Regions from separate parts of the Homo sapiens genome. Here regions 2, 3, 4 and 5 are each linked to region 1. The links come from fine-mapping of genetic effects on gene expression. A gene starts in region 1. Each other region holds a variant in brackets. All regions are shown on one strand. Distances are from middle to middle.

Region 1 (6,530 bases):
CTACTGTCTTGCTTGCATTGTTCCAAGAAGAAATTTCCCGTAATCCTTATCTTTGTTTCTATGTAACATGTGCCCCAACACCCCTTATTACTTTAGAATTTTTTATCAATGGTTTTGAGTTATGCAATTATGGTATAACTTGATGTCATTTTCTTAATATTTCTTGTGTTTGAGATTTGTGAAGCTTCTTGAATATATGAATTTATATTTTTCATCACATTTCAAATTTTTTGGTCTTTATTACTTGTTTTCTTGTCCTCTCCCCTTGCCTCTCTGAGACTCCACTTTCAAGTATATTATTAGGCTGTTAGAAGTTGTCTCACAGCTCACCATTGATTTGTTCATGTTACTTTATTTTCATTTTTTAATGTTGTGATTGATTTTGGGTAGTTTCTCTAGAGCTGTGTTTCACTTTCATTCTGCAATGTGTAACATACTATATTAATACCATCTAATTCCATCTATCACATTGTAGTGTTCACCTCTACAAGTTTGATTTAGGTCTTTATTACAAGCTTTGTGTCTTTGATTAACTTTTTTAACAGCTTTTATGACAGCAGTAAAGTGTAAATTTAGCGGTTTTCTGTATAGAATTGTACAACCTTCACCATAACCGAAGTGTAGAACATTTTATTTATCCCTTTAAAAGAAACACTATATCCATTTGCAGTCCCTCCCCATACTCTCTCAACCTCTCATTCCCACCAATCCCCAGCCCTGGACAAGCACTATATAAATTTACTTTCTGTTGCTATAGATTTGTCAAATCTAGACATTTCACATAAATGAAATAATATATTATGTGGTCTTTTGTAATTAGCTTCTTTCACTTAGTATATTTTCAAGGTTCATATTTTAGCATGTAGTAACCATTATTTAGCATGTAATAAAGTTCTCTTTACTACTGATTAATACTTCATTGAATGAAAGTATGCATTTTCACTCACCAGCTAATGGGCCTTTGGGTTGTTTTTACCTTTCAGCTTTTGTGAATAATGCTGCTATAGAGGTTTGTGTACTTTTGTGTCCCCATGTTTTTATTTGTCTTGGATATATAACTAGGAATGAAATTGTGACTCATATGGTAACCCTACGTTCAAAGCCTATGCACCAGTTTACATTTCCATCAACATGAGAATTCCACTTTCTTTACATCCTTAGCACCACTTACCTTTTTCATTATAGTTCTGATATCTTTTTGAAGATATGGGATATAGTTACAATAACTGTTTTAATGTCCTTGCCTGTTGATTCTAACATTACTTCAGTTCTGATCAGCAATTGATTTTTCTCCTCATTATGTGTTTTTTTTTTTCTTTTTGCAAGCTTGGTAATTTTTCTTTGTATGACATATGTAAATTGCACCTTTGGTGAACATTTTTCTATTTCTATAAATACTGCTGAAGTTTGGTCTTGTCATCTGTCATGGTTTGTTAAGTTTGATCCATTTGGGTCTTACTTTTAAGAGTTAGATGGCACTACAGCACTGATCAGCTAGGACTAATTACTGCCTACTAAATAATTAGTAAACAACTATCAAATCAAGACTTTTTTGTGTGTACTCTGTCCAGTGTCCTACGGACTATGAAGTTTTCCAGCCTGGTTAGTGGAAATAGAGACTATTTCTGACCCTCTGTAATGTCCATATATATATATTTATATATATATATATATGTATTTTTTTTTTTTTGTGAGACGGAGTCTCGCACTGTCACCAGGGCTGTAGTGCTGTGGCGCAATTTCGGCTAACTGCAACCTCAGCCTCCCTGGTTCAAGCAATTCTCCTGCCTCAGCCTCCCGAATAGCTGGGATTACAAGCGCCCACCACCACGCCCAACTAATTTTTTTTGTACTTTTAGTAGAGACGGGGGTTTCACCATGTTGGCCAGGCTGGTCTCAAACTCCTGACCTCGTAATTCACCTGCCTCAGACTCACAAAGTGCTGGGATTACAGACGTGAGCCACCGCGACCGGCCATGTCCTGGTATCTTTAAAAATCTTTTAGCTAGTTTCTTGAGACACATACTGCTCAGTACTCAGCTGAATGAATACCAAGTTCTCTCTCAGCAGTTATCTTTCTCCTGTACTCTGCAAAGAACATTACCTACCTTGGTCTCCCCAGAATATCTGTTCTATTTTGCCAACGCAGGCAATCGGCTGGGCTCTGCTTGAGTTCACTCTCCTGCATCGCATCTATAAAATACTAATATCTTTGAAAGCAGCTCGCTTTTTGAGCGCAGATCATTTGCTTCCTGTATCTCCCGGATCACTATTCTTTACTGATTCCCAGCGTCTTAGAAACAGCCCCACTGTTTTTCGGGGTTTTGTTTTTTTTTTTCTACAGCAGTAGTGAATATTTTAAATAAAGTGTCAATGCTGTAAGTTTCCCTTAAAACGCAAACTCAAGGAAATGCTTTCCCTTTTTCGAGTAGAGAAAGAACTTCCACAGGCGCGCGGTCGAGCTCAAGCCCACTTATAGTCTCTGGCACCGCGTAAGGACTAGCGCGCAGGCGCAGAGCCCGTGCGCGCCTAGCCATAACCGCGCTTGCGCCAAGCAGCGAGGCCCGCCAACGAGCGAATCCGCGCCTGCCAATTAGAGCGCACAATGGTCCTTGATGCCCGCCCACTAACCTCTGCAGCCAATCGCCTGCCCCGGCGCGAAGTCGACTGTGACTTCAAAGTAATCTTAGGGATTGTGGGAAGGCAGCTGAACTCGGCGCCTGGAAAGATGGAGGCAGCGGAGACAGAGGCGGAAGCTGCAGCCCTAGAGTAAGTGTTTGCGGCTAAGTGGCAGCTGGGGCCGGGCCTGGGAGGACCTTGTGGGCCCCTATGTGTAATGATTGGTGCCCTCGACCCTGTACAGCTGTTGAGGTTCGACCCTGCCGTGAAGTGATCCTCACCGCAGTCCCGTCTTAGGTTCCTGAGGTGTCTGTTGCCTGCTCCAGGAGTACAGCCTTTGGGGGACCGTTCGCCGCTCCCCACATCCACATAATCCACAGGATGTGCTCTAGGAGACGGTTTCACTTCTGTCTTCTTGTCCCAACACGACACATTCCCAGTCACTTCTCATCCCCATCCCTGCCCCTTCGTAGATTGCTCCAGTCCCTAATAATGAAAAACCCTAGAGTAGACCGAGGCATCCAGCCCTCTGCCCTGAGTCCTTTCTCAGCTATTCCAAGACTCTGCCCCAAGGCTGGTGCTCAGCGCCAGGAGGGATCCCAAGGCCCAGCATTCTTCCCCTTCCTTGCATATCTCCCTGGCTTCCTTCACATCTTGACTCAAATGATTTCTCTTCAGTGAGACACTCCCTATTTAAAATTTCAGCTCTTTTCTCAAACTCCTTATCCACTAGCCCTGCTGATTTTCCTTTTGGCACGTATTACCACCGTGTGCCCTCCATGCACGCCATTCCTGGTTGCAGGCTGTGGACCCTTCAGGCCCTTGTGTAAACTCTGGTCAAGGCAAGACTCTCAATACTATATATACTGATATACACATCCACATTTGTTTGTGTACACACACGAACTGTAGAACTAGCACCACAAGAAACTGCAATTTCCTGTGTTTCCTTGCCCCTCCAGGGTCCTGGCTGAGGTGGCAGGCATCTTGGAACCTGTAGGCCTGCAGGAGGAGGCAGAACTGCCAGCCAAGATCCTGGTTGAGTTTGTGGTGGTATGTACAAGATGAGAGCGAGCCTTTCAGAAGCCAGGGTCTGGTCCTGGCTCCTCTTACTGAGATACAGGGCAGCACTGGCAGAGAGCAGACTTAAGGAAACCTGTAAGGAGGTAAGGATGTTCCCTGTCTCTGCCCTCCCTCTGAGCAGGACTCTCAGAAGAAAGACAAGCTGCTCTGCAGCCAGCTTCAGGTAGCGGATTTCCTGCAGAACATCCTGGCTCAGGAGGACACTGCTAAGGGTCTCGACCCCTTGGCTTCTGAAGACACGAGCCGTGAGTAGGCAGGGGATTGTAGTAGCAGCTGACCTGAGTGGGGAAGGAAGGAGGATTTCAGTTAGGTCTCCCATTTGGCTGATGGGAAGGAGGCCCAGTGTTGCAGGGAGGCAGGCTAGCAGGCCACCCTCACTCATGTACTCATTCCTGGTGGCTCATCTCAGGACAGAAGGCAATTGCAGCTAAGGAACAATGGAAAGAGCTGAAGGCCACCTACAGGGAGCACGTAGAGGCCATCAAAATTGGCCTCACCAAGGCCCTGACTCAGATGGAGGAAGCCCAGAGGAAACGGACACAACTCCGGGAAGCCTTTGAGCAGCTCCAGGCCAAGGTACACCCAGGGGTCTTGAGTACAGGGAGGGAAGGGCAGTTAGAAAGGAAGAGGGAAAGAGTGAGCAAGCTGAGTTGTGCCAGCTTGCAATCTCCCAAAATTCTAGCCAGAAAAAATAGACTTCTCTTGGTCTTTCTCCCTTGCTTATCTGTAGAAACAAATGGCCATGGAGAAACGCAGAGCAGTCCAGAACCAGTGGCAGCTACAACAGGTAGGTTCGTCCCCCTAGGAGAATATCCCTTCCCACCACCATGCCATTGTATCGGCTGTGTCCCCTGTCTAGAAAACCGTTTTGCTTCCTCCTTTGAGGCACTATAATATAAATACCAACATGGGCTTGAATCTCAGTGTCACCACTTACCACTGCATGATCTTGGGCAGGTCACCTAACTTTCTGTTTCTTTATTTAAAATGAAGGCAATAATACCACCTACTCTAGAGAGTTATTAAGATGATTAAATGATCATTACAGCAAGGACTTTAAAATAGTACCTGGCACATAGCAAGTTAAATAAGTGTTATCACCTTTGTGCCCCTTCCCCGCAAGAATGCCTCACCCTAGAACAGCTCATTCTGATCTTTCCTTTTCTCTAGGCCCCTACTCCACCCTGAAGTGAATAGAGTCCCTCTTTTCATCATTGAGCCTGAGCCCTGAGCTGGGTGTAGGCTGGAGGGGTTGGAGGGAGTTTCTAAGACTTCAACATCTGATGCATAATGTCTGCATGCTCACTCCTGGCAGGAGAAGCATCTGCAGCATCTGGCGGAGGTTTCTGCAGAGGTGAGGGAGCGTAAGACAGGGACTCAGCAGGAGCTTGACAGGGTGTTTCAGAAACTTGGAAACCTGAAGCAGCAGGCAGAACAGGAGCGGGACAAGCTGCAGAGGTAAGTTCGGGAGCATGGGCTGCAGATTCAAAATGGTCCAGCTGAGATTCCTTTCCTTCACACTTACCTCCTCTTTGTAGGTATCAGACCTTCCTCCAGCTTCTGTATACCCTGCAGGGTAAGCTGTTGTTCCCTGAGGCTGAGGCTGAGGCAGAGAATCTTCCAGATGATAAACCCCAGCAGCCGACTCGACCCCAGGAGCAGAGTACAGGAGACACCATGGGGAGAGACCCTGGTGTGTCCTTCAAGGTAAATGAGAGATGGAACAGGTGGGCATGGGCTGGCAGGTGGAGACAGAAGCTGGGAGATTGGCCTTACCCACTGTCTATACTGTATTTCTCCAAGGCTGTTGGTCTACAACCTGCTGGAGATGTAAATTTGCCATGACTTCCTGGAGGACAGCAGCATGGAGAAAGATCCTAGAAAAGGTCAGACCCAACTCAGGCCTTGGTGTCCCTGGACTGCAAGTGTGGAAGGAGGGAAAGCCTGGTTTACCTCTCTCTGCATCTGAGCTCTGCTACCCATGGAGCAGATGGATGGTGGGAACAGGAAAGAGCTTATGTTACACCTCATTCCCATGCTTAGCCCACCCAGAGCTAACCCCTGTCTTCTTCCCCAGGCCTCTGACTTCCCTCACCTCCCAACCATCATTACAGGAAAGACTGTGAACTCCTGAGTTCAGCTTGATTTCTGACTACATCCCAGCAAGCTCTGGCATCTGTGGATTAAAATCCCTGGATCTCTCTCAGTTGTGTATTTGTTCATCTTCATATGCTGGCAGGAACAACTATTAATACAGATACTCAGAAGCCAATAACATGACAGGAGCTGGGACTGGTTTGAACACAGGGTGTGCAGATGGGGAGGGGGTACTGGCCTTGGGCCTCCTATGATGCAGACATGGTGAATTTAATTCAAGGAGGAGGAGAATGTTTTAGGCAGGTGGTTATATGTGGGAAGATAATTTTATTCATGGATCCAAATGTTTGTTGAGTCCTTTCTTTGTGCTAAGGTTCTTGCGGTGAACCAGAATTATAACAGTGAGCTCATCTGACTGTTTTAGGATGTACAGCCTAGTGTTAACATTCTTGGTATCTTTTTGTGCCTTATCTAAAACATTTCTCGATCACTGGTTTCAGATGTTCATTTATTATATTCTTTTCAAAGATTCAGAGATTGGCTTTTGTCATCCACTATTGTATGTTTTGTTTCATTGACCTCTAGTGATACCTTGATCTTTCCCACTTTCTGTTTTCGGATTGGAGAAGATGTACCTTTTTTGTCAACTCTTACTTTTATCAGATGATCAACTCACGTATTTGGATCTTTATTTGTTTTCTCAAATAAATATTTAAGGTTATACATTTCTT
Region 2 (6,530 bases), 77 kb after region 1:
AAAGCAGATTTTGAAAACGAGTACTAGAAATGGTGAAATTCCATAAACAAATATATATATTTATATATAGTTTTATATATGTATATATAAAAAAATTGAAAAATATCAGGGAAATAAGAAAATTAGAAAATCTTAGGTATTGAGTAAAATATTTAGAAGAAGACCATTTATCTGGAAAATGATGATTTATCTGATAAATCCACTTCTGCAATTTAATTTGGATATGGAAATAGAAAAATATATATATACACATATGAATTAACAACAAAAAGTAAGCCAGGATATGATTTATTAGTTTTATACATTTTAATGATGTAAAGAAGTTAATAACTTGATAATCTTCTTTTGTTTTTATGGAAGCTGTGAGAATTATATAGTTTCAGTCTACTAATATGAACATTGAAAGCTAGCCATTTCTTCTCTAATGCTTTGCTCATATGAAAACATACATGTATATTCAATTTTTTCTGATAGTTTTTCAAAATGGCACATAAGTAAATGTTACTTCTTCTGTGCAAGAAAATTTGTCTAACTCTTTGTCATAGGAATTTTCCAAAAATATTACACCCTTTTTAGACATGTATGACAATGATGCCCTGCTATGTTTATTATTATATTTATGACTCATTATTATGTACATATGTAATTTTGTAACAGTAATAAGTTAAGCAATACCCTGAGAGTAATGTGAGCCATACTGATTAATAACATGCTAAGCAATCTCAAATTACATAGGAATTCTTGTGTCAAAGTTATGTAGAACTTTAGTTTCTTGATTTGCTTTAATAAGTTACTTCATACATTTTTCAATTTCTTTGCTGTTGCATTGAGCTATCTCTCTTTAATTTAGTGAAATTTGAAAACTCAAATATTGAAGTTTAAGAACATTGTATGTAAAGTAAAAGCTAGTCAGTATCCTGTGAAACTTCTATGTTTTACTTGGGGAAAAAAAATTCATTTGCATTTTCCCAGAGGATATTGTCATATAGGGTAGAAGTCTTTCTAGTAAAATAATTTCCTAGGTTTTAGAAGAATTACACACATTTAGTGTGTTAGATAGTGGAAATACCAGTATATACTTACAGATAGGCATTTCAATATTATCAATTTATCTTATAAAACCATTTCTTAAAATTGCTCAGCCATATAGCATGAGAATCTAAGCCTGCTGAATATTTATGACAAGATTTTAATTATATATTCAAATAAAAACAGATTCAATGAATTTATCTCCTAGTAATAAAGAATGTTACCTGCACTTTTACTATAGGTGAATACAAGAATTTCTAATTAATTTAAACAATTTTATTATGTTTAGTGTTAGACTAGGGTAAAAAATAATGATACATTATTTAGTAAATGTCATCATTTGCCAATATTTCATTATTTCATTAATATTTTTACAAAATAGTGTTGAAATATTTTTCTTCAAAATATAGCATATAATCCATTAAATAGGAATATATTTGTCTAATATAAAATATTTCAGCAAACATATTTACAGAAAATATTAAAGGAAGTCACATAAAAAGGCACATAAAATATTTCCTTACAATTATTACAGATGATTTAAAAGATATGTGTATAATAATAAATATAGTATATATGTATATATATTTAATCCAGACAACTGTGAAATAATTAATTCTGCTCAGCAATAAATAAGAATAACGTACTGACATAACAAAATAGATGTCTCTCAAGTACATTATTCTGAGTGAAGAATTTCGGATACAAAACACCAAATACAGTTTGATTCATTTTATATAAATTCTAGAAAGGGCAAAAACAAAGTGCTAGAAAGCAGGGGCCATAGGGCAGGGGTAAAGGACTGACAGAAATGACAGAACTCTTTGGGATGATGGAAATGTTCTACACCAATCATATAAATTAGTCAAATTAAACTTGACAAAAAGTCTTTGAACTGAATTTTCACTTCTACATTCAACACATAGTGTAGCAATTAGAAAGCTAAGTGAGATCATATAAATGAATAAACCTTGACATCATATACTACAACAAGTGTATATCCAGTTTCTTTGTCGTATATATTGCCTTAAATAACTGGTATTGATAAACCATACCAGAGTGTACAATGCACATCATACCCAAAACTAAAGCAATACTCAAGTAAAGCAAGAAAGACCTTTTCTTTATGTCATCATCGTATGGAAAGAAATTTAAAGTTTCTGAATTATGCTATTTCCTGAATATGGCAGGTTTTAGTTTTACCGGTGGCACTTTGGGGAAGACTAAAGAGCAGATAGAACTTTTTAAGCAAAGATACTGCAAAATTTTATTTCAAAAAGGGTGTGATACTATGCTATTAAAATAATTTGTTTCCTATTTCATCATGGTTACTTGATTGCTTAAGAATTGACAGATAAAATATACTAGGGCTATCCAGTAATGTAAGCAGATCTCTAATAAACAAATCATACTGGAAAGCAAAGGTTAATGTAAAGCATAAATAAGAAGGCAAAGTAACACAAAATGTCAGTTGGAGTCTAATAATTGTATAAAAGTTATCAAGCAAGTAGGTGCCCATGAATACTTACCATATGTGCTTGCATTGATTAATGGCAAGATAAATAAAACACATACTTTTTAGTCTAAAAAGCAAAAGGCTCTCAAACTTCACAGACTGAATCTCATAAAGCAGTTTTTAAATATTCTAACATAGCTGAAACTATAGGAAAGAAAACATACTATAGAAATTCTGATTACTAAGATAGAAAGATAACCAGCTGGTACTTACAAATCAATGTGAGTATTGAGAAGAGAAGGAGTAAGATTTGCAACAGCCTAATAAATATATCAGCCAGGTAGTCAAAAACAATGAAATATTGATAACACTGCTTCTCAAAAGTTTAACAGATTATTAAACTAAAAACAATAAATAATTTAGGAGTGTATCATTTTCTAAAATGGACTGATCCCTGAAATTGCTTATTGAATAACACAAAATATTTAAACTTGTTACATGAAGCAACTAAATCAACTACCTCCAAAAAATCTGCTTTTTGCATCTTAATTCTATTTCTGTTACAGTTTTTCTAAAATATGCTTTCACATTATGGGTAAAGCAAATTGCAGCAAAACATGTTTTTTTTTTTTTGGTGAGAAGAAAATACAGATAAAAAAATACTCTCAAACAATAAAAGTTCGAACAAAATAATCTCTACTTACGTAAGCATTCCAAAGAAATTGAAGATGTAGAGATCTAAGTAGGTATTTTGGGGAAAGATATATAACACAGGACTTACATTGCTCAATTGTTGAGTATTTTGATAAGTAGAACATTTTGTAATTACCGACAGAGCTGATATGTGGTGCTGAGTCCTTGGAATTAAATATGCCTTTTAGTGCCCAAGCTGATTTTTGGTTGATGTGTAATGTTGAAGTTAAAGGACATACTCTATGTCAATAACCATTAAGATAGTAACAAGATGAGAAAGAAAATCTATACAGTCAATTACTGTAATATAATTTCATTGTTAATGCTAGATTGCCTGAAAAATCATTGAACAAACAACAAGAGACACAGCAAATTTTCTTTATGGCATATGCTATGTGATCTCTTATCTGTTGTAACGGAGTTGTTATACATTATACCTTAATAGAGTTGCTCTTTCTAGAAAATAAAGAAGACAGTCGACAATAACATGACAAAAGCTCAACATCACTGATCATTAGAGAAATGCAAATCAAAACCATAATGAGATACCATCTCACACCAGTCAGAATGACTATTATTAAAAAGTCAAAAAATAACAGATGCTGGTGAGGTTGTGAAGAAAAAGGAATGCTTATGTTGGTGGGAGTGTAAATTAGTTCAGTCATTATGGAAGACTGTGACAGTGTGGTGATTCCTCAAAGACCTAAAGATAGAAATACTGGCCAGGCACCGTGGCTCACACCTGTAATCCAAGCACTTTGGGAGGCCAAGGTGGGTGGATCACCTGAGGTCAGGAGTTCAAGACCAGCCTGGCCAACATGGTGAAACCCTGTCTCAACTAAAAATACAAAAAAATTAGCTGGGCATGGTGGCAGGCGCCTGTAATCTCAGCTACTTTGGGAGGCGGAGGTAGGATAATCGCTTGAACCTGGGAGGCAGAGGTTGCGGTGAGTTGAGATTGCACCATTGCACTCCAGCCTGGGCAACAAGAGCAAAACTCTGTCTCAAACAACAATAACAACAAGAAATACCATTCAACCCAGCAATCTCATTACTGGATATATGCCCAAAGGAATATAAATCATTCTATTGTAAAGACAAATGCACACACATGTTTGTTGCCATACTATTCACAATAGCAAAGACATAGAATTAACCTAAATGTCTATCAATGATACACTGGATAAAGAAAATCTGGTACATATACACAATGGAATGCAAGGCAACCATAAAAAAACAACAAGATCATGTCCTTTGCAGGGATATGGATGGAGCTGGAGGCCATTACCCTTAGCAAGCTAACACAATAACAGAAAA[C/T]CAAGTGCTGCATGTTCTCACTTATAAGTAGGAGCTAAATGATGAGAACACATGGACACGTGGAGGGGAATAACACACTGGGTCCTATCAGAGGGCAGAGGGTGGAAGGACGGAGAGGATCACAAAAAATAACTAATGGATACTAGGCTTAACACCTAGGTGATGAAATAATCTGTAAAACAAACTCCCATGACACAAGTTTGCCTATGTAACAAACCTGCACGTGTACTCCTGAACTTAAAATATAAGTTAGAAAAAAAAAATCTGTAAATGAACAAAAATCTGCCAAACAAATCAGTTACTTGCTCCACAAATTGCTCTCCACCTGTTTTCTGACAAGAATGTCTATTTTCAAAGAAAACTAACATTACTGCTTTAGTAATATTTCATAAGCTAGCTCAAATATGGAAATTGTCATTTTTATGTGAGCATATTAGTTTTCTAGGTATGCTGTAATAAAATACTCCAAATTGAATGACAAAGAAAAACAAAAATTTATTAATATTTTCTCACAGTTCTGGAAATACTTTAATCCTGAAATCAAGGTATCAGCAGGGTCATGGTTTCTCTGAAACCCATAGGTGAGAACTCTCTCATTTCTTTCTGGCCTCTGGTGATTTGCTAGAGATCCTTTGTTTCTTAGCTTGCAGCTTCAGAACTTCAATTTCTGCCTCCTTTGTCACATGGTGTTGTCCCTTTATGTGCTGTGTCCCTGTGTTCCTTCTCATCTTCTTATTAGGGCATCAAACGTATTGCATTAAGTAGTCACCCTACTCCAGTTATATCTCATTTTTACTTAGCTAGTTATATCTGCAATGACCCTACTTCCAAATAAGATTACACTGTGAGGTACTGATGTCTAGAATATCAGTATATTTTTTATCTTTGGAGAAGGACACAATTCAAGTCTAATAGTCAGAATTCTATGGTCATTCATGGCATTCATGGCATTTTTGTGGACATCTTTTACAACAATTCATTAAACACTAGTTTGCATGCTCTATGAAAGTGGACATAGTACTTATTCATTTTTGCATTTCTAGTTCTTAGCATAGTAAGTTCAAAATGCATATTGCTATGTGAATGTAGGACCTGGATTGGGAAACATTCTGAAATGTAAATAAGATGCCTTTTTATTTCCTCTTTTATTACTGCTCTCTTGCCTTTCTATCGTTCATAAACATGAAATACATCATGAAATAAACATGATAGTGTATATAGAATGCTTAGCAAGATGCCTAACAATCAGTAAGCATCTAATAAATAAACCAACTAGTGTGATCATAACTTCACTCTGATTTATTCTTCATACCCTCACTCTAAATCCAAATCTTTCTACTACAATTACTCAGCCAAAGTTTGCTTTCTATTGATAGCAATGTCATATCAAATTATAGGAGATGATAGCAGGTGAAACTAGAATTTAGATATAAGGAATATGCTTTTGCAACATACTAAAAAATATACCACATGAACTAGGTGTCTTTTGAAGATATCACTTTTCCCTGAATTATGATATGTCTCCTGGCTGGTATACTGCTATAGTGCACTAAGAGAGACACATGTACCTCTGTGGTACTTTATGTGATAAATGAAAGTATAAACTACTAGAAGAACACATTTGATAAATCAATTACTTCAAAAGGAGAAATTAAACTAAAGATATTACTAAGTTACGTTTCAACTAATCCCTAAAATATGAGAATACAAGTGAGGTAGTTGTGTTTCTGAACAAAATCACAAAGGTATGAAAGTTTATTGTGCCATTAGGGAAACAGTAATGAACGTAAGGGCCCACATATAGGGTCTGTTAAGGGTAGAGTATGTACAGATACTACTGCTAAAGATAATAGATGCATGTTACACTGATGTCAAATGTTAAACTGAGAATATTCGTTCAAGATTTCAAAGCCTACTTGATGAGATCTGATTTTAGAAAGACAGTTTGTGGGGATAATTTATTTCAGTAGAGGAGAATGTTTGCAGAACTGTCGTAATAGTGCAGCAATAAGGTAAGTAGGGTCAAAACCACAAT
Region 3 (6,530 bases), 41 kb before region 1:
ATAGTCTCAAACTCCTGGCCTCAAGCAATCCCCTCACTGTGGCCTCCCAAACTGCTGGGATTACAGGAATGGGCCATCACACCCGCTCTAACTTCCTAAATTTAACAATACGACATGAATAAGCTACCAATGAGTTTGCTCTAAAATATTCAAGAAAACAACTTACAAATCTAAAAAAAAAAAATACATGAATATGTTTTGGAGACATTTTCTTTAATAAATTATTATTTCACTTCAATTTTATTCTAAATATGTTTTCAGAAATATTTGTGTTGGAAACACAAGAAAACAGGGTAACAGATTACCTGCTACACCCTCTAGAAGGAACAGAACCCTGCCAACCTATTTTAGACTTCTGACCTCTGGAACTGTAGGAGAGGAAAATCTGCATTGTTTTAAGTCACTGTGCCTGTGGTAATTTGTTATAGTGGCAATAGGAAATGAATATAATATCCACTGAAAAACATCTGGAAATAATGAACAATTCATTTCTAATGTGTCCACTAGCCACTTACATTCTGGAATCTGAACACAATTTTCTATCAAAAGAAATCAATCAGGTGTCCTTGGATAAATGGCTGATTGAGGTATGGGTTAGAAAGTATACCAGATGTTGCTATAACATCTTATAGAACCAGATAGCAAAAGAGATATGAGACGACTAGTGTCACGTTAAAAAGTCCTAGAGACCAATTTGAAGAGTTTCTCCTTGGGTACAGTTGAGATAATTTGCCCATCAATAAGAATGATAACTGCAATAGATTGACACTTATCAAACATATTTAAATTTATGAGTACATAATGATATCAAAAAGCCAACACCAACCAAACCAACCAACCAAATCAAAACAAAAAATAATGGTCACAATTAGAGAATAATAGGTAACTAATTCATTATATTAAATACTGGGTAATAAAAGAAAAATCAAAGAGATTATCTCTCCTTACTATAAAAACTGTACCTCAATTCAAAAAATAATTGATAAGAAAAAAATTTATACAATTATGCCAATTACTTATTTATGAGAAATGGTAGAAATAGAGTATCGCCATAATCCAACTTCAAACAACATATTGGCTCCTAGAAATATCATATATGGCTGTCAACAGCACGTAACAGAGACAACCAGATGTTATGTGTTTTCTGATGGAAATGTATACCATCTAAGAAATATTATTTCCAAAAAATTGACCAATCTCTTTAAAAATATTTTTTTCAGAAATATAGGAGACAATGTAACGTTAAGCACTTATATAAGGTTATATGTAATACACAAATTCTGAGATCTCTATTGACAAGTTACTTGAAATTAAGAAACTTTTTTCAGATATTAGATTATTTCTATGTATATTTAAAACATTCTTGTCTTTTAGAAGATACATGCTACATACTTAACATCATTATAAATTAAATGATAAAAATGGAAGAGATTTGCTTCAAAATGAATCAGTACAGAAGTATAGATGCATTAAGATTGGCCCCAGTTGACAATTCTTAAGGTAGATGAAACAACTTTTTTATGAGTTTGAAGTTTACCCTGATGAAAAAGTTTTAAAAATTACAATTATTTTTATAATTTCTATAAAAAACTGAGAGAATCAAATAAGATAAAGTGTATCTTCTAAATAGTCATACATGCCATTTTAAAGTTAGGCACTATTGCAAGCAGCAAATGAATAATTTTGGAGACACAATGAGGAGACAGATATATCCTAAGAGTATACACCTGTATATATCCCAAGAGTACACACCTATACAGCAATGACCAAACAATGAAGGTTTTAAAACTGTACAACTGATTGTTTATTTTAAAACTTGGCATGATCTTGATGTGACTTGTATAAAATCAGTGATTTCACTATTTTGCTGGTGATTCAAACTAGTAGTTTGACTAAATTTCTTGGATGCTTTTGTATAACCTGTCCTAAAACTAAAGAGCAAACTTCACTAATACATACAAAGAAAAAAAAATGACAACTCACAGGCAATCCTTGGAATAATGGTGTGAGATGAACTGAAGTAGATTTATTTCTTCCTGGAATGATGAATGAGGTTTAGCTGCTATTGAAACCTTTGAAGGCTGTTAACTTGAATTATAGATACTTCTAAAGACAACCTCTTCTGAGGCCTTTCACACATTTCACCATGTGAAACACATGAATCTGATCGCATAACTCTCTTAGCTCTGTTGTGCCTAAAGATCCATAATGAATTGTATTCTCCAGCCCCTGCTCTGAAACAGAGCATTATAGTTTTAATATTCTTTACTCTTATATTTATTTCCAGGACCTTTAAGTCCCTGAAATTTAGTTTTTGCTCAGTAAACATTTATTGAATATTTGATAAATATTTTCTCATTCTTTTGGTTTCAATTTATGTACTTGGTATTTTTATGAGAAGTGATTAGAGGAAATAAAGAAAGGTATTATAAAGTGTTCATAGCTCATAATTCAAATATCATGACATGCAGGGTGACTCTTTGTATAATATAAGAGTCCTGTTGCTGCTTGCAATGACATGAAATGTTTGTGTTCCCCCAAAATTTATAATGTTGAAACATAATCATGAATGTGATGATATTAGGAGGTGGGGCCTTTGGGAGATAATTAGATCACGAGGATGGACTGTGTTTCAATGCCCTTATGAAAGAGGTCCCATAAAGCTTCCTTGCCCATTCCACCGTTTAAGGACACAGACAGAAGGCACTATTTATGAACCAGGGAACAGGTCATCACCAGACACTGAATCTGTTGGTGCCTTGATCTTGGACCTCCCATCCAACACAACTGTAAGAAATACATTTCTCATGTTTATAAATTGCCTAGTTTATGGTATTTTGTTAGAGCAACCCAAATAGACTGAGACATATGGCATTGCTGTAAGACAATTATGACTAACATTATGGGTTAAAACAACACAAATTTATGTTATGGT[T/C]CTGGAGGTCAGAAGTCCTAACTAGGTTTCAAAGAGATAAAATCAAGGTGCTAACAAGGTTGTGTTCCTTCTGAGGCTTTAAAGAAAAATACATGTCCTTTCTTCTTCCCGCTTCTAGAGGCTGCCTGCATTCCTTGGCTCATGATCCCATATTCCATGCGCAATGTCAGCAGTATAGCACCTTCAAATATCTGACCTCTGCTTTCATCTTTACATTTTCTCTCTGACTATGACCTTCCTGTTCTTCTCTTATAAGAACCCTTACAATTACATTAGACTCACATGGATAATCCAGAATAATCTCTCATTTCAAGATCCTTAATGTAATCACACATGAAAAATCCTTTTGCCATGTAAGGAAACATATTCACAGGCTCTGGGTTAAGACTTGAACATCTCTGGGAGGCTATTATTATCTCTATGGTACATTTAAGCAATGCAAATAATGAATTGCTTATAGTGTAATCTCTACTTCTGTTGGGAGAATTGGGGAATAATTATGTCAGGGTTGTTTTAAAAAATGCTTCACTAAGAGTATCAAAGTACTCTAAGCACCTCACTTACGCTTAAGATTACTGTCTATGAAAGCTTGACCAAGCACCATTGGATTACACAGAAACACAAACAGAGGCAGAAAAACTCTATGTAAAGCTAATTTAATTATATATATAAAGAAATTATACATATTTTATATATATGCTTTCATATATATATGTATATATAATATGTCTTTACCCTCTCACTCTACTACATATGACTTACCCCACTACCCATATGCCTTTACCCTATCACTCCACTACAAGCATAATATACTAAAGGATGAGGAAAGTTGGTTAACAGATATAATTTTCTTTAAATGTATTTTCCACTTAATGTGTTAAAAAATCAAGTTTTTTATAAATAAAATGTCATATCTATACAATAATTAGAGTACAGGTCACCTGCCAATTTTATTGAACTCTAAATCCAGAAAGATAATCTCAGCTATCACAAATTGTTTTGGACAAATAAAACAAAGTGTCTTTTTATGTTTATTCCTTTAGGCAAAGTAAATGTTAACATCAGAAAATACAGTGAATGGCAAATCAATATAACATAGCTTAGAGAAGAACTGCAAAGCTACAATTCAGGCAGATAATGTTTCAGTGAAATGCCTTAATTCCTGCCCGCGGTTGAAACTCACCATTTCTAAAATCATACTGATGGCCTCTAACTGATAGAGTTCAAAAGAATATTAGAGAAAAGGAACATTTATTTTGCTTTAGAATTCTAACACATGTAATTAATAACCTATTGGGTGTGTCTCACTACGTTAGTGACAGGATCATTCATACACCACACCTCGGTGACATGCAATTTACCCATGTAACAAACCTGAACATGTACCACCAAAACTAAAATAAAAGGAGAAAAAAAAACACAAAAAATAATAGCTGGCACTGAGTTTTCTTTTTACTTTTCTTTGAGATGGAGTCTCACTCTGTTACCCAAGCTGGAGTACAGTGGCACGATCTCAACTCACTGCAACCTCCACCTCCCTGTTCAAGCGATTCTCCTGCCTCAGCCTCCCGGGTAGCTGGGATTACAGGTGCGCACGACCACGCCTGGATAATTTTTTTTGTGTATGTTTTGTGGAGACAGGGTTTTGCCCTGTTGGCCAGGGTGGTCTCGAACTCCTGACCTCAGGTGATCTGCCTGCCTCGGCCTCCTAAAGTGCTGGGATTACAGGCGTGAGCCACCACGCCCGGCCTGACACTGAGTTTTGTATTACTAAATAAGTAAACAAAAAAATCATTTAAATCAAATTGTTCTAACCATTCTATTTTACTTTCAAGGAAAATGATTGACCCTCCTTTTTGCTATGCCTTCCACCTATGATTTAACAGAACGATCTGAAGTTGTGACACATAAATTGAACTCTTCCTGTCAGTTATTAAACACAGGTAATATTGGGCAGGTTGCAACTTCTCTGAGACACAGTTCCCTCCAAGAAAGCAAATGAACTCATGGCCACCCCCATGCTTGAAATTATAGAAAAACTAGAAGAGAACAGTGTGAGGAGAAAGTAAAATTATATTAAATCAATTAAAGAAAACCACTGGATGGCCTAAAAATTAATAGGAAAGCAATACCTAGACATTAAAACTGCACTACTACAGTTTGGATTTAATAACCTGGTAGACGAAATCATATTTGAAAAATCTCCAGTATCTATATGGAGTTTAGAGGTTTAAATATACTTTTTTTATGCATTTCTAAAGTTGATCCCCACATAAGCTTGCTAAATACACACCCAAAAAATACAATTTACTTTTTCTACAGGTGAGGAAATGAAACTATATTTCACATTTTTCATTTAGTTCATTTATTTATATATTTATGTAATAAGCACAAATTTATTTGGCACCTTTTATGTTCCAGGCAATGTGCTGGATGTTAGGTATTTAGCAGTAAGCAAAAGAGCCAAGACATTTGCCTTCACTGGATTTATTTTACATTCTAAAAAGAGACATCGACAAAACAAATGTATGCAGACAAATAAATGTGTAGTCATAATTTGCAAAAAGTGTTATGAATGAAAAAACTAAGTTATATTACTCAGGGTTCTCCATATATATATATATATATATATATATATATACACACACACACACACACACACATACACACACATATATATATACACACAGAGACAATATATATACACACACATATAAACACACACATATATACACAGAAACAATATATGTATATATACACATATATATGTATGTATACACACATATGTGCACATACACACATTCACTGGGAGAGAAAGAGAGAGATTATCAAGAATTGGCTCATGTAGTAATGAAGGCTGAGAAGTCTCACAATCTGCCCTCTATAAGCTGTAGACCCAGGAGAGCAAGCCGGTAGCACAGTTCCTGTCCAAGTACAAGTGAGGATGATGTCTCAACTCATAAACAATCAGGCAGAGAGAATGAATTCTCCCTTATCTCATCTTTTGTTCCATTTAGGCCTGCAACAGATTGGATAAGTAAAGCCCACTCACATTGGAGAAGACAATCTGCTTCATTCAGTCTACTGATTCAAATGTTAATCTCATCCAGAATCACCCTCACAATCACACCCAGAATAATGTTTAACCAAATATTTGGGCATCATGTAGCCCATTCAGGTTGACATATAAAATGAACCATCCTATAGATGCTATAAAAATGGCTAGAAAGGCCCTTTTTTGAAGGTCTTGAGACTGGAAAGATAAAAAGGAACAAGTGAGAAATGAGAAGAGTGTTCCTGGCAGGGGAAACATGTTTGAACCTCCTATTTGCTAGCATAGCTCAGCACTATTAGTGGCATTGCATGGCTGTGTTTGTGCAGGGAGGGTATGTTGGGGAGTCTTTCAGGTCTCCATCACAGATCTCACTTCCTCAGAGCATGATCTTCTAGCTAATCTTTACTGTGAAGCTTTACATAAGACCATAAAGTAGGAGACTGAGAGGGCGAAAAGAGAAACGGTTATGTTTAATACTTTTGAGTACATGCAGAGGCTCTCAAGTACAGGAAACTTACTGTCCAGTCTTAATGCTCTGTA
Region 4 (6,530 bases), 85 kb after region 1:
ACATTTAGGAAAATGAGAAATGGCAATATTAATTATTTTACAAAAATTTAAAGTTTGTTTATATTTTAAAAAATGTCTTCTATCATAGAGGTTCTACTCTTGGCTAGTTAATTTCCCCCATTCTCTACTACTTCATTGCCTTCGATCACAGATTTTTTTCACAAAAATGTAGGTGTGAAAATTTATCAAATTCTCATAGTGTTGGGAAAGTACTGCTTATAATTCAGTACACTACAAAGCAAAGCATTCTTTTCTTATGTATTTATTTTCCACTGGTTATCCTTGAACAGGAAAATATTGCTTGTTTGCCTGCTAAAATTTATATTAAAAAGTCACATAATATTTACTACCTTTCTGAGGTCCTCTAAAAATTCTGCAGTTTGTAATTATTAGGAACTGAAATCTGCATAAATCCTTGCCCTATATTCTATTGATGAGTAACCAGTAGTTATTGCATGTTTTCAACATTAGAAAAAATATTGCTTTGGGCCATATTATTAATAAAATATATTTATTTAATAAATTAAATGGAATTAATCAGATGAAAAATAGAATTCATGCCAAACTGCTTTCTGTCTCTATTCATTGTTAAACTCTGTTTTTAAAGCAATGCCTTTGTTGTTTTCTCTTCCCTCTCTCTAGCCCTCTATTCCCTCATCACTACCTCCCTCCCTTCCCTCTATTTTTGCTTTTTAACACATTATTAACTACTGTTTGTGAGGGCATAATAAAGCAGGAACTTTCATGCTTCTTATGGAGAGCAAAATGTGAATGTGAATTCAAAATTTCAGAGTTCCTAAGCGCTGATGCGGTGAGTATATTTCTGGAAATGCACCTGTATTAATTTCCTAGGGGTACCATAACAAAATACCACAGAATGAATGGCTTAAAATCTAAACATTTATTTTCTCATGTTTCTTGAGGCTAGTACAGTCTCAAAGTATCAGAAGTTTTGGTTTCTTCTTTAATATATGAATTTTGGAAAACATAATTTTGTCCATAATAACATCAAAATAATCAGAGAAGTTGGGTACCTTTTATGTAAACCAAATATATTGCAGCATTATTATTTAAAGTGGAAACTTGACAATGAACTAAGTGCCTAGAAATATATGAGTTACAGAAATTATGTAATATCCATATAAATTTAAAAATTGTAATTAAAGTAAGATTCAGAAACTGTTTTACTGACATGTAATACAATAGATTGTTAAGTGAAAATAGCCATTTACAAAAATATATATTCAATGTTTTCCAGATTTGTGTCATCTAAACAAATAAATATGCCAACAAAATCTATCATTTAAAATTATTACTTCTAGTTGAGATATTTATGAACATTTTTTCTCTTTACCCTTTTGTCATTTGAAAACATTGTACCACTTAAAATTAAAATATGCCTTAAAATATGCCTTCACTTTCATATTTCAAATTAATAAGAACATCTAAAAACTTTATGTATGCCCAAATGTAGAAACATTATTTTAATAAACTATATAAATTGGACAATTCCATAAAATATTTACTCCTTCAAAACTGAACTCATTTAATCACTACGTAAAAGTAAAAAATCAATATGAAGAAATGTAACTCATCTGACACTTCTAGGCTAAATTAAAACTTTTAAATGCCAAGACTAATTTTGAAGCTGTGGTCATTGTGTATGTGACTTTCATTATCTTCACACCGCACCTCTTTTAAGAGATAATGTCAGCAGAAAGTTAAAGGTGCTAGTGAAAGACCACCAGAGAACAGGATGGTCAAGTTAAAAGCAAGGCTGTCCTTACCATTTTCCAGTTAATAGAAAACATATTACAGTCTCAAACTGGTCGTAAGAAAGTAGAACAGGAATGTGAGACAGGGCATAGGGTAGAACTTACTCAACATTTCTTAGTTCTTGGGAAGAGGGACTAAGAATAAATAAGTCCCAAAGAAATGTATTCTGTGGTTCTGGGTTTATAAAATAGGAGTGATTTAGGCCAGGAGCTTGTTAATTCTTTTTTACATAGGGGGTCAAAAATATATTAATAATTTAAATTGTACATGAAGAATTATTATTTATTGCATCAAAATTGCCTTCAGCTGAAGAGAAGGGCAGAACTTAGGGCAAGAAACATGCCTTTAATTTCTAGACTCTCTTTTCTTGTACTAGTGTGTATTGCTTGCTATTGATCCTGAAACAACAATAAAAGTAATGATTTCCAGACCACACAATGCTTTATGAGTCACAAATATACAGAGTAGACATAAAGTCTGAGAACATAGATTATATTCTTTTTATTTTTACAGAGTGAAGTTTTTCTGGGCAATAATTTGTATATTTACCTTTTTCCCTCTGAATTGATAGACAAATTGTAGTAGTGTTCTTATAAAAATAAAGTGACCTCATGAACAATGGGAAGAAAATCAATACATTGCTTCAAAGGGACAGGGACTTAAAATCAAAGCTCTCTATTGAAAGATATAAAATTCCATAAATGCTTTAGAAATTTCTCTTAGTGTTGTACTGCCTGATATTGCTATTGATTTTCTAAAAAAGAGCTTCAGAAACCCAAGTTACTTGAAGTATACTTCTCCAATTTTCCTAAGCTCATGAAAGATTTCTTCTGTGTTCTTTAAACTGAAACCTAGAATTATCGCTTGTTGACCTCCTGCTCTATACTTATACCCTTCTTGTGAAGGGGACCTGACCCTCTTGACAAAAGCCAGAAGCAGAGACAAGAACTTAAGCAATAAAACTTCTCCAATATTTGCTCTGATGCTTTGACAATTCACAAAGACCAAGTACTGAGTAATGTCTATATTTTTTTCAGACCATATTCCTTTTCATATAATAAGATGGACAAAAGGAATAATTGTGCTAAAAAAGACCCAAAAGACTTTGTTTTCTTTATATTGTAAGCAGTAAATCTTTATTACATCCAAAAATATCTTTTATATATAATTTTTTATTATACTTTCAGTTCTAGGGTACATGTGCACAACATGCAGGTTTGTTATATGTGTATACATGTGCCATGTTGGTGTGCTGCACCCATTAACTCATCATTTACATTAGGTATATCTCCTAATGCTATCCCTCCCTCCTCTCCCTACCCCACAACAGGCCCCGGTGTGTGATCTTCCCCTTCCTGTGTCCAAGTGTTCTCACTGTTTATTATTATTATTTATTACATCCAAAAATATCTTAAGAAAACAAACTCAAAGCAATATTTTATTTACAAGCTGTGTTCATCCTATTGGGATTACATTTTTTGTTTCTCACAATTTCCTCCCAAAATCCTGTCTAAACTTTTGATAAAAGATGACATTTTTATTTTACATATGATCAGTCAATAATTATGACTGTTT[A/T]GTTAATTGCCCTGATACTTATTTTATTCTATTATCATTTATATGGGCAAAGGACATTTTATCCAAAAGAACCCTTGTTCTAATATGTGTTTAGCTAATTTCAATCTTGAGGCCACAAGTATATAATTTAATTTGGTTTTATCTTCCAATAACCAATGTAACATTTTCTCCTTTTAATGCTAATTTGAATAACTCAGACAAATACTTAAAATATCAATAAATACTAATCTTTACCTGTATTTCTTACCCCTTCCAAAGGTTATTTAAAAAATAAAATTGTAATGAATAAAAGTATATATGTAAAGGTGCATTTCATTATATATTCCCATTATTTTATCTCTAATAATATGAATTACCTCATTTATATATCTAACATCCCATCAGAACTACCTCCAGGTAAAATGAGATGCAAGGAAAGGTTCATCATTTGTGAACACATGCCAGTTTGCCAATTCTGTACCTCTTTTTTTATACCTTCTTTTTACTGAGTCAAACTATAAAAATATTTTCTTCCTGCAGAAGTCCCACTGTTAAAAGAAAATATTAATATCTCTCATTTTCTCTGAAATAACACTCCCTTATCTAAATCAATATGCATTCCTTTCTTCTTACAATAATATGTTTGCTCAGAATATTTTACTGTCAGTTTTCATCTCCCCTTTCCAAAATTTAGCTAGTTTTCAGTTGATTTATTCAAGTGGACTTAAAGGCTAAGGTAATAATGACTACTTTATTAACATCTTACTTCCATCAACCATGTCCACATTTTTACTTGGGACAGTTGAGGAGTCTTTTAATCCAAAAGCTGAACACTTGAATGATAAGAATTGAAACCATGAACTTCAAACAAAATGGCAGGCTTGATTACCATGGGCACTTTTTTCCATTCCTAACAGAAAATTCTTGATATAATATAAAACTTCTAATTTTTTAAATAACATTTTTATTTTAGAATAGCTAGAGATTCACAGAAAAATTACAAACCCTGGCATCCACTCACCTTTTGTCCATTGTTACAGTTTTGCCTTCTCCAGTAAGTTAAACCATTGTAATTATCCAATATGTAGCCCTTTCACACTGACTTTTTCATATAGAAATATGCATTTAAAATTCAAAAATGTCTTTTATGGATTCATATTTCACTTCATTTTATCACTTAATAATATCAGCTCTACAGATGCATCATAAATTTTTTTATTCATTCACTTATTGAAGGAAATCTTGTTAGCTTCCTCATTTGCCCGTATGAGTAAAGCTGCTATAAGTATTTACATGCAGCTTTTGTTGTAAATGTAAGTTTTCAAATCAGTTGGTGAAAATCATGGAGCATGCAGCCATAAAAAAGAATGAGTTCATGTCCTTTGCAGGGACATGGATGAAGCTGGAAACCATCATCCTCAGCAAACGAGCACAGGAACGGAAAACCAAACACCACAGGTTCTCACTCACAAGTGGGAGTTGAACTATGAGAACACATGGACACAGGGAGGGGAACATCACACACTGGGGCTGTCGGGGGCCGGGGGAAAGGAGAAGGAGAGCATTAGGACAAATATCTAATGCATGCAGGGCTTAAAACCTGGATGATGGGTTGATAGGTGCAGCAAACCAACGTGGCACATGTATACCTTTGTAACAAATCTGTGCATTCAGCACATGTATCTCAGAATTTAAAGTAAAATTTAAAAAAATCATGGAGCGTGATTGCTGGATTATCTGAGAAGACTATGTCTAGCTTTGTAAGACATTAACAAATGGTTTTCAAAAATGGCTGTACCATTTTGCATTGCCATCAGCAATTAATTGAAATTTCTTTTGGTCCACATTCTTGCTAGTAATTGGTATTGTCAATTTTAAAATGTTCATTCTAATAGGCATAGTGGTAGCTTATTGTTTTGACTTGAGATTCCTTAATTATAGATGATGTTGAGCTTAATTTTTTTTTTTTTTTTTTTTTTTTTGAGACAGAGTCGTCTCGCTGTGTCGCCCAGGCTGGAGAGCAGTGGCGCGATCTCGGCTCACTGCAAGCTACGCTTCCCGGGTTCACGCCGTTCTCCTGGCGCAGCCTCCCGAGTAGCTGGGACTACAGGAGCCCGCAACCACGCCCGGCTAATTTTTTGTATTTTTAGTAGAGACGGGGTTTCACCATGTTGGCCAGGATTGTCTCGATATCCTGACCTCGTGATCCGCCCGCCTTGGCCTCTCAAAGTGCTGGGATTACAGGCGTGAGCCACCGCGCCCGGCCTGAGCTTAATTTTTTATATCCCTATTTGCAATACAAAAATCTTCATTGCTGAGGTCAGATCTCTTGCCCATTAACATTTTTTCTTATTGTGTGTTTCAATAGGTGTATATTTTGTATTCAAGTCTTTTACCAGATGTAAGTATAGAAAACACTTTTTTCTCAGTCTGTGGCTTGTCTTTCAATCTCTTAACAGTGTATTTTCAAAGTATAATTTTAAAAAATTTTATAAAGTCTACTTCCTATTTTTTTCTTTCATGAATCACACTTTTGGTGCTATATAATTAAACTCACAGATACATAAATTTTCTCCCATGTTTTCTTTTACAAGTTATAGCTTTGCATCTTAACATTTGGATCTACAATACATTTTGAGTTAATTTTTGCAAAACGTGTAAGGCTTGTGTCTAGGTTTATTTTTCTGCAGACAGAGGTTCAATTGTTCTAGCACCAATTGTTCGAAAGACTCATTTTTATTGAATTGCCTTTGCTTCATTGTCAGGTATTCTTTATATATTGTGTGGGTCATGTCTGGGCTTCATGGTAAGTCCTTAAATCAGATGAGTCCTCCATCCTTGTTCTTGCTCATCAGTATTGTGTTGGCTCGTCGAGTCTTTTACTTTTCCGTGTAAACTTTAGAATCAGATTGTAACAACAAACGCAAGTCCCTGAGCTGATTCCTCAAAGAGCTACCAGACAGGTCAAAACACAACCAAAGTTCCTTGAGACCAAGGTCTGTATTGCCCCCTGCAGCAGTGGCAAGCCACACCAAGAACCGGGGCTGCCATTCTCACAGCCACTGCAGAGATGTGGAGTGTGAGATGTTTTGCTGTTCTATTGTTGTGTGAACATTTTATTTACCTTCTGAAAGTGTTCCTAGACCCAATACTCACAAGGAGTTTCATTCATAGCTACCGTTCCCATTCCATCCTCTACT
Region 5 (6,530 bases), 580 kb after region 1:
TAAGATATTTTTATGATAAATAAATTTGTCACCAGCATGTATTATGTATTTTCTATATAGTTAACATTTTAATAGGCTTTTGAGTTTATAGGAAAATATGGAAGGAATAAATATCTTTTTTTCAATGACATTCTTAGTTAAAAAAAATAAAACCAGAGAAAATGAATTAAAATATACCACTCATTATAAATAAATGTATATCAACTAATCGTAAGAGGGCCTGAGTTAAAACAGTTCTGAGTAGGATACTGATAAATTGGGAAGGCTTTCTTGAAGAAAAAATGTTTTAAATAATCTAATAACAACAGTACAGGTTAGAGCAGACAAAAAGAAAATTAAGATAAAGTCAAGGGAATTTAAAAAGGTAGAAAGATAATGATAAGACAATATTGTTTGGAGCTCTGAGGGTTACATAGGTTAGTAGGAGCCCTGCAACAATTTGAACAAATACAGTTAATGAAATGAATGTAATACAGCTGCTCACAATGGCTGTACAGAGAACTGTGTGTGAGCTACACAAAAGACACTACAGGTTAACAGCAGGTCAGTGACATGAAGAAGGAACTTTTCTAATATAATAATAATAATTGTTAGCATTTACTGAAGGCATAGTATTCTGGTGACATATATCTATTAGCAATTTAATTATCATGAGAAGCATACAAGTAAGACACTATTATTATTTTTATTTTATGAAAGATGAAACTCAGGCAGAGAACATTTTAATCATTACTATATGGATCCATTGTGTGATTGTAGGTATTCAAAGATAGGCACTCTGAAATCAGAGCTATGCATATAACTATCATACCATATTGTTTCTCTAGATAATTGTTATAAATGTTAGTATAATTTTGAAAAAAAAATAGGTCAAGTATCATTTCAGTGAATATAAATGAAAGGTAAAAGAAGTCATTTTCAATGGAGGACCAGCTTTAGGTAAGAGAAAAAAAGAGAAAAAGAAACCCTATAAGATAAAGGAAAAAAAGAAAGAAAGAAACAAAAAGCAAACCCCAAACCTGATGTCCTTCTTTAGCCCACTGTGATAGTATCACCACCACAAAATTGCCACTGCTTATTGGCACAACAAATAATGGCTAGTATTAATCCATTCATACACAGAGCTGGATATAGATAAAGTATAAATAAGAAAAAATGTGACAACTATGTGTCAGCTAGACATTTTCTTTAATTACCATCCATTTCATTTCACAACCCTAGATGTATACAAGAAGATCAATAGCTTCAAAAGAAAAAGCATTTTGGAAGGGGATTATTTTGGTTATTCCTGTGCCCCAAAGGGTGGTCTGTTAAACATTTATATTTTGTGAAATAAATCTCTTATGAAACCCCATTAGATAACAAAGCAACTTAACCAAAATAAAGATTGCCACCAATATGACTCCCATCCAGTAATTGGATATATTGTTTAAAATGGGGTAAAACATGATTGTCCTAGTTTACTTAGTCATGATTTTTATCTCATGAATACAATTAGCAATGAGAGTTGAAGATAGTAGAACCACAGTTTTGGTTTCCTTCACTCAACCTTAAGTTGTCTATTTTTTCTGATTATCTAAATAATATAGTTCATCTTTATGATTAGTACATAAATAAAATTTGAGTCTTTCTTGGCATTCATTACTTTACCTTGAAAACCCAGAGTATTTACTTTTTGTGTGGCAAGGGAGGCCTAATGGGGAACCTTGACCTTCATCTCAACTTGATGGTAAAAAGGTGCTCCTTCCTTCCCCTTTTGCTTGCCATGTGTCTGAAAAAGACTAGTATAAAGAATATATAAAGAAATTTCAAAACTTAAGAGTGAACAAAGTCAAATTAGAAAGTGGGCAAAAGACATGAATATACATTTCACTGAAAAGAATATATGTTTAGAAAATCAGAGCATGAAAATATGTCAACATCATTAGCCATTAGGGAAATGAAAAATTAAAACCCCAGTGGGATTTCAATATATACTCAAGATAATAGTTAAATTAAAAATATAATGACAATACTGAGTGCTGGCAAGGCTGCAGGAAACTACGTAACTCCTGCATGGTTGATGGGAATGTAAAATAATAAAGCCATTCTCTTTAACAATCTGATACTTGCTTTAAAAAGCAAACAAACAATTTAACATGCAATGACATTATGACTCAGTAATTTCACTCCTGAGCATTTACAGCGGAGTAATTTTTAAAAACCATGTTAATTCAAAAACTTTACACAAATATTCAGAGCAGCTTTATTTTTAATAATCCCGAACTGGAAACAATCCAGACATTTTTGAAGGAGTAAATAAGTTTAAACAAAATGTATTACATTCATGCAGTGAAGCACTACTTAGCAACAAAAAGAACAAGTTATTGATATAGGCAACAACCTCCATAAATCTTCAGAGAATTATGCTGAGTAAATAAATATAATCAGAAAAGATTATGTGATGTGGAATTTCCCTTATATAACATTACTGAAGTGACAAAATTATGAGAATGGAGGAAAGATTAGTGGTTGTCAAGGGTTAAAGACGAGGTGAAAAAGAGGAAAATGGATGTGGCTAGGAAAGAACAACATGAGGGATTCCATGGTAATGGAAATATTCTGTATGTTACCTATATCAATCTCCATATATTGGTTATGATATTGTACTATCGTTTTGCAAGATGTTACCATTGGGAGAACTGAGATAAGGTTACAAGAGATCTCTCTATATTATTTCTTACAACTGCAAGTAAATCTACAATTATATCAAAATTTAAAGGTTATTTTAAAAAGAGAGTTCTTAAATTAATAATTCATTCTCCCAACTTTAGAAGTTAAAAGGAAGACTAAAGTGAGCACAAAGCAAGAAAAATGAAGAAATAATACAGATTAGAGCAGAAATCAAACAGCAAATGAAGCAAAAAACAATAAAGAAGTTTAATGATCCAAAGTTTGAATCTTTGAAAAGATAAACAAAAGTGAGAAATATTTAGATGATAAATAATAAAAAAGGCTGGGCACAGTGGCTCACA[C/T]CTAAAATCCCAGCACTTTGGGAGGCCGAGGCGGGTGGATCATTTGAGGCCAGGAGTTTGTGACTAGCCTGGCAAACATGGTGAAACCCAGTCTCTACTAAAAATACAAAAATTAGCTGGGCGTGGTGGCGGGTACCTGTAATCCCAGCTACTCGGGAGGCTGAGGCAGGAGAATCGCTTGAACCTGGGAGGTGGAGGTTATAGTGAACCCAGATCCTGCCATTGCACTCCAGACTGGGCAACAACAGCGAAACTCCATCTCAAAAAAGAAAAAAAAAAAAAAAAGAAAGAAAGAAAGAAAAGAAAAAAGAGAGAATGTGTCGATTACCAAAATCAGGAACAAAGGTTACTACTACCAATCCTCCCTCATCCCATCCAAATATATGAATTACAAGGGAAATACTATAAAATGCTTTGTGACCACAAATTATACAACTTACATTTAAGGTATGAAGTCTTAAAAATATATAAATTACTGCAGCTGAAACAAAAATGAATAGAAAATCTGAATAAATATGCAATTAAATTTTAATTAGCAATTAAAAGTCTTATGTAAGGGAATATATAGGACTACATGACTTCACTGGTAAGTTATTTCATGTATTCAACGAAGAAATGATACCCATACTCAGAAAATAGAAAAAGAGAGAAACTTCCCAATTCATGTTATCAGGCCTATATTCAAAAGCAAAAATGAAAAAAGAAAGAAAGGAGGAGAAATTTTTAAAAAGAAAAAAATAAAAATAAAATTACAGATCTATATACCTCACAAATATAGACACAAAAATCTCCAATAAAATATTATCAAACTAAATTCAACCATATATAAAAATGATTACACTCCATGACTAAGTGAAATTAATCCCAGAAATGCAAGATTGTTTTAGTACTTAAAAAGTAACTAATGTAATATACTATGTTATAAAATAAAGAACTAAAATGAAATGATTATCTCAATGATGCAGGAAAAGGATTTGACAGAATCTAACATTAATTAATAAAAAAATAGAATGGAAATTCCTCAACCTGTTAGAGGACATCAACAACAACAACAACAACAACTCAAAACATTACATTTTACGGCATATCTAATGGTGAAAGACTGGATGTTTTCCCCTCAAAATTGGCAACATGCCAAAGATGTCTCTAATGTTCACTCTCATTAATTCTATCCAGTATTGCACTGGAAGTTATAGTCAATACAATGAAGAATATATTGATAAAGCCATCAAGAAATCGAAGTGGCCGGGCGCAATAGCTCAGGCCTGTAATCCCAGTGCCTTAGGAGGTCAAGTCAGGAGGATTACTTGAGTCTAGGAGTTCAGAACCAGCCTGGGCAACAAAGAGAGATCCTCTTCTCTATGAATTTATTATTATTTTTTTAAATTAGCCAGGCATGGTGGCTTTCACCTCTCAGTCCTAGGTACTCAGGAGATTGAGACAGGAGGATTGCTTGAGCCCAGGAGTTTGAGGTTGCAGTGAGCTATGATTGGGAGACACTGCACTACAGTCTGGTAGACAGAGCAAGACAATTTCTCTCTTAAAAAATTTTTTTTAAAAATAATTATATTCACAATACTATAAAAATAAACCCTTGGAAATAAATTTAGCAAAATATGTCTAAGATTTGTATGCTGAAAACTAATAATCTAAGCAAATGGAAAATCATTCTATGCTCATGGGTTGGGAGACCTACTATTGTTTTTCTAGTAAATCTCCCATCATAGATCTATAGATTTAATACTATTGTTACCATACATTAGCCATATTATATGAACATAAATATTTCATTTATGAGCCTCATATCTAATTATTTGTTAATTACATATAAAGTAATTAATATGAATTTTTTGAAAAGCACATTAAAAATGGGTCCCCGAGACCTTGGCTTTCAAGTTCAGATGGAAATATTCAATATGAACTAGAACATTTAGTAATCAAGGTGTCATATTCTGCCTCATTATCTTTTTATTTGGAAAACTATGTTCGACTCCAAGGTATTGAGTTGATAGGGAGAGTTGAGACAGAGATTTCCAGTCTCTGTTTACTTCAGTGTAAGAGAAGTAACCAGTTTAATTGTTTAGAACCTGACATTTATTTAGTCATGTCTTCTTAGTGTTCAGGTTTATTGTCTTCAATGATTGGATACCAATCTGCTTCCTTTTTGACTTTCCTAGACTCAGATTCATTAGATTCTCTATTTGTGTCATTTGGAATGGAAAGACTTTCTCACAGGGTAGAGGTTATTCATTCTCTTTCTTCATTCTCTCTCTCTCTCTCTCTCTCTCTCTCTCTCTCTCTCTTCTCTCTCCACCACAATTTTTGCCAAAAGCAAGTCAGGTTTTTGGTCAAGCTAAGTTTTTACTTCTTGCTTTCCTTCAACTAAGTATGAAATAAATCTATTAAATAATATTTAATTTGGTCTCATATGTGAACCATACTCTCCAACCTAGTATTTCTGCCAAATAACCATGAACTGAAATTTACTTCATAGTTTTGACCTTCATAAATTGTTTGTTTCCCCATTTATCTTCAATTTTTACATATTTTTAAAGTATTGATATCAACTCTGGGGAAAAGAATAAATCTTACACCCTGCGTAACAACAGGTACAATAAAAGAAGTATGTTCCTTAACGTGAGAAGAATGTTAACCCATTTCAATCACAAGTATTTGATTCTTCCCATGAGTAACACTATGCTATGCATTGTGGAGTTTACAGAAGAGTTGAGATATGATCCTGACTTCGTGGTATATAATTTCATTTGATAGGGCAAGTCATATGTGGTAAATAAAGATATAGACGTTACTGATGTACATGAGAGCCTTGTGGGCTGAGTTCCCTTATAGAAGTGGAGTTTGTGCAATCTTGAAAATGGGTAGCATCTGGATAAGAAAAGAGTCAATCAAGTAAGAGAAATGCCCCAAAATTGCTTCTACAATGGTAGAGCAGCTTCCTTCAGAAAAAGCTACATAGACTTTTAAATTTAAAATCATAGCATCTTACAAACAAATATATAAATACCATTTACTTTTATGGTATTTCGGGAAAGTATCTAAGTCAACGTTAAAAATTATATTTCAAATCCTCACATGCATCTCCCTTCACTAATTAAATAATAGTGAACTGTGTTTTGAAATCATCAGATACTTCAAAATTAGTTTGCTTTTCAAATAATGCAACGTAGTAAAACGTGGACTTGCAGAGCTCTTATATTACTGTGGTTCTTCTATGAAAGTAATGTAAAACTATTTAAAATTTTTCCTTAAATTTTTCACAAGTGTCAGGTAAGTACAACACCATAAGCAATATTTGCTGAATTATTACAATGTATTATATGTCTTTTACTTAATATGAGTTTTATATTGAGAACTTTTTTCAAATAATAATTCTCCGAGATGAAGATAAAGTGCATGAAAACTTGAAGTAAAGATGTATTCACCCTACAAGACTTAATAGTGAGACTGTGCAGAACTCAAGATTGCGTTGGCCAAGGGATTAAAGAGGCAGAGCAG

Alleles and levels. Alleles are on the strand shown, and positions count from the first base shown. SD is a standard deviation of normalised expression in the study named.
For the expression in esophagus muscle of the gene that starts at base 2,706 in region 1, T is the low allele of the variant in region 2 and C is the other (large effect, 0.78 SD a copy in GTEx).
In carriers of allele T in region 3, the expression in hippocampus of the gene that starts at base 2,706 in region 1 tends to be higher than with C alone (large effect, 1.1 SD a copy in GTEx).
In carriers of allele T in region 4, the expression in fibroblasts of the gene that starts at base 2,706 in region 1 tends to be lower than with A alone (small effect, 0.24 SD a copy in GTEx).
In carriers of allele T in region 5, the expression in prefrontal cortex of the gene that starts at base 2,706 in region 1 tends to be lower than with C alone (large effect, 0.83 SD a copy in ROSMAP).

What was found. PIP is the estimated chance that this variant, and not a neighbour inherited with it, causes the effect.
Region 2: its variant is the best candidate, but not a certain one, in a credible set for the expression of ZWINT in esophagus muscle (GTEx, PIP 0.84).
Region 3: its variant is the best candidate, but not a certain one, in a credible set for the expression of ZWINT in hippocampus (GTEx, PIP 0.79).
Region 4: its variant is the best candidate, but not a certain one, in a credible set for the expression of ZWINT in fibroblasts (GTEx, PIP 0.54).
Region 5: its variant is the best candidate, but not a certain one, in a credible set for the expression of ZWINT in prefrontal cortex (ROSMAP, PIP 0.69).

What each region holds. Positions count from the first base shown.
Region 1 is chr10:56,357,435-56,363,964 of GRCh38, reverse strand. ZWINT (ZW10 interacting kinetochore protein) reads left to right here and starts at 2,706. Exons shown (of 9, transcript NM_007057.4): 1 at 2,706-2,769; 2 at 3,582-3,672; 3 at 3,824-3,947; 4 at 4,112-4,278; 5 at 4,433-4,489; 6 at 5,018-5,160; 7 at 5,241-5,409; 8 at 5,506-5,588; 9 at 5,780-6,530. The coding sequence starts at 2,729. The coding sequence ends at 5,547. It overlaps LOC124902546 (a long non-coding RNA gene), which reads right to left and starts at 2,506. Exons shown (of 2, transcript XR_007062372.1): 1 at 2,109-2,506. RefSeq lists a silencer at 2,439-2,648 and enhancers at 2,739-2,908, 2,257-2,996, 3,736-4,476, 3,622-4,821.
Region 2 is chr10:56,280,432-56,286,961 of GRCh38, reverse strand. No RefSeq gene overlaps it. Among named protein-coding and RNA genes, the nearest start is that of ZWINT, 78 kb to the left of the region's middle. The variant C/T (reference allele first, on the strand shown) is at 4,496.
Region 3 is chr10:56,398,697-56,405,226 of GRCh38, reverse strand. No RefSeq gene overlaps it. Among named protein-coding and RNA genes, the nearest start is that of ZWINT, 41 kb to the right of the region's middle. The variant T/C (reference allele first, on the strand shown) is at 2,936.
Region 4 is chr10:56,272,873-56,279,402 of GRCh38, reverse strand. No RefSeq gene overlaps it. Among named protein-coding and RNA genes, the nearest start is that of ZWINT, 85 kb to the left of the region's middle. The variant A/T (reference allele first, on the strand shown) is at 3,352.
Region 5 is chr10:55,779,998-55,786,527 of GRCh38, reverse strand. No RefSeq gene overlaps it. Among named protein-coding and RNA genes, the nearest start is that of ZWINT, 580 kb to the left of the region's middle. The variant C/T (reference allele first, on the strand shown) is at 3,015.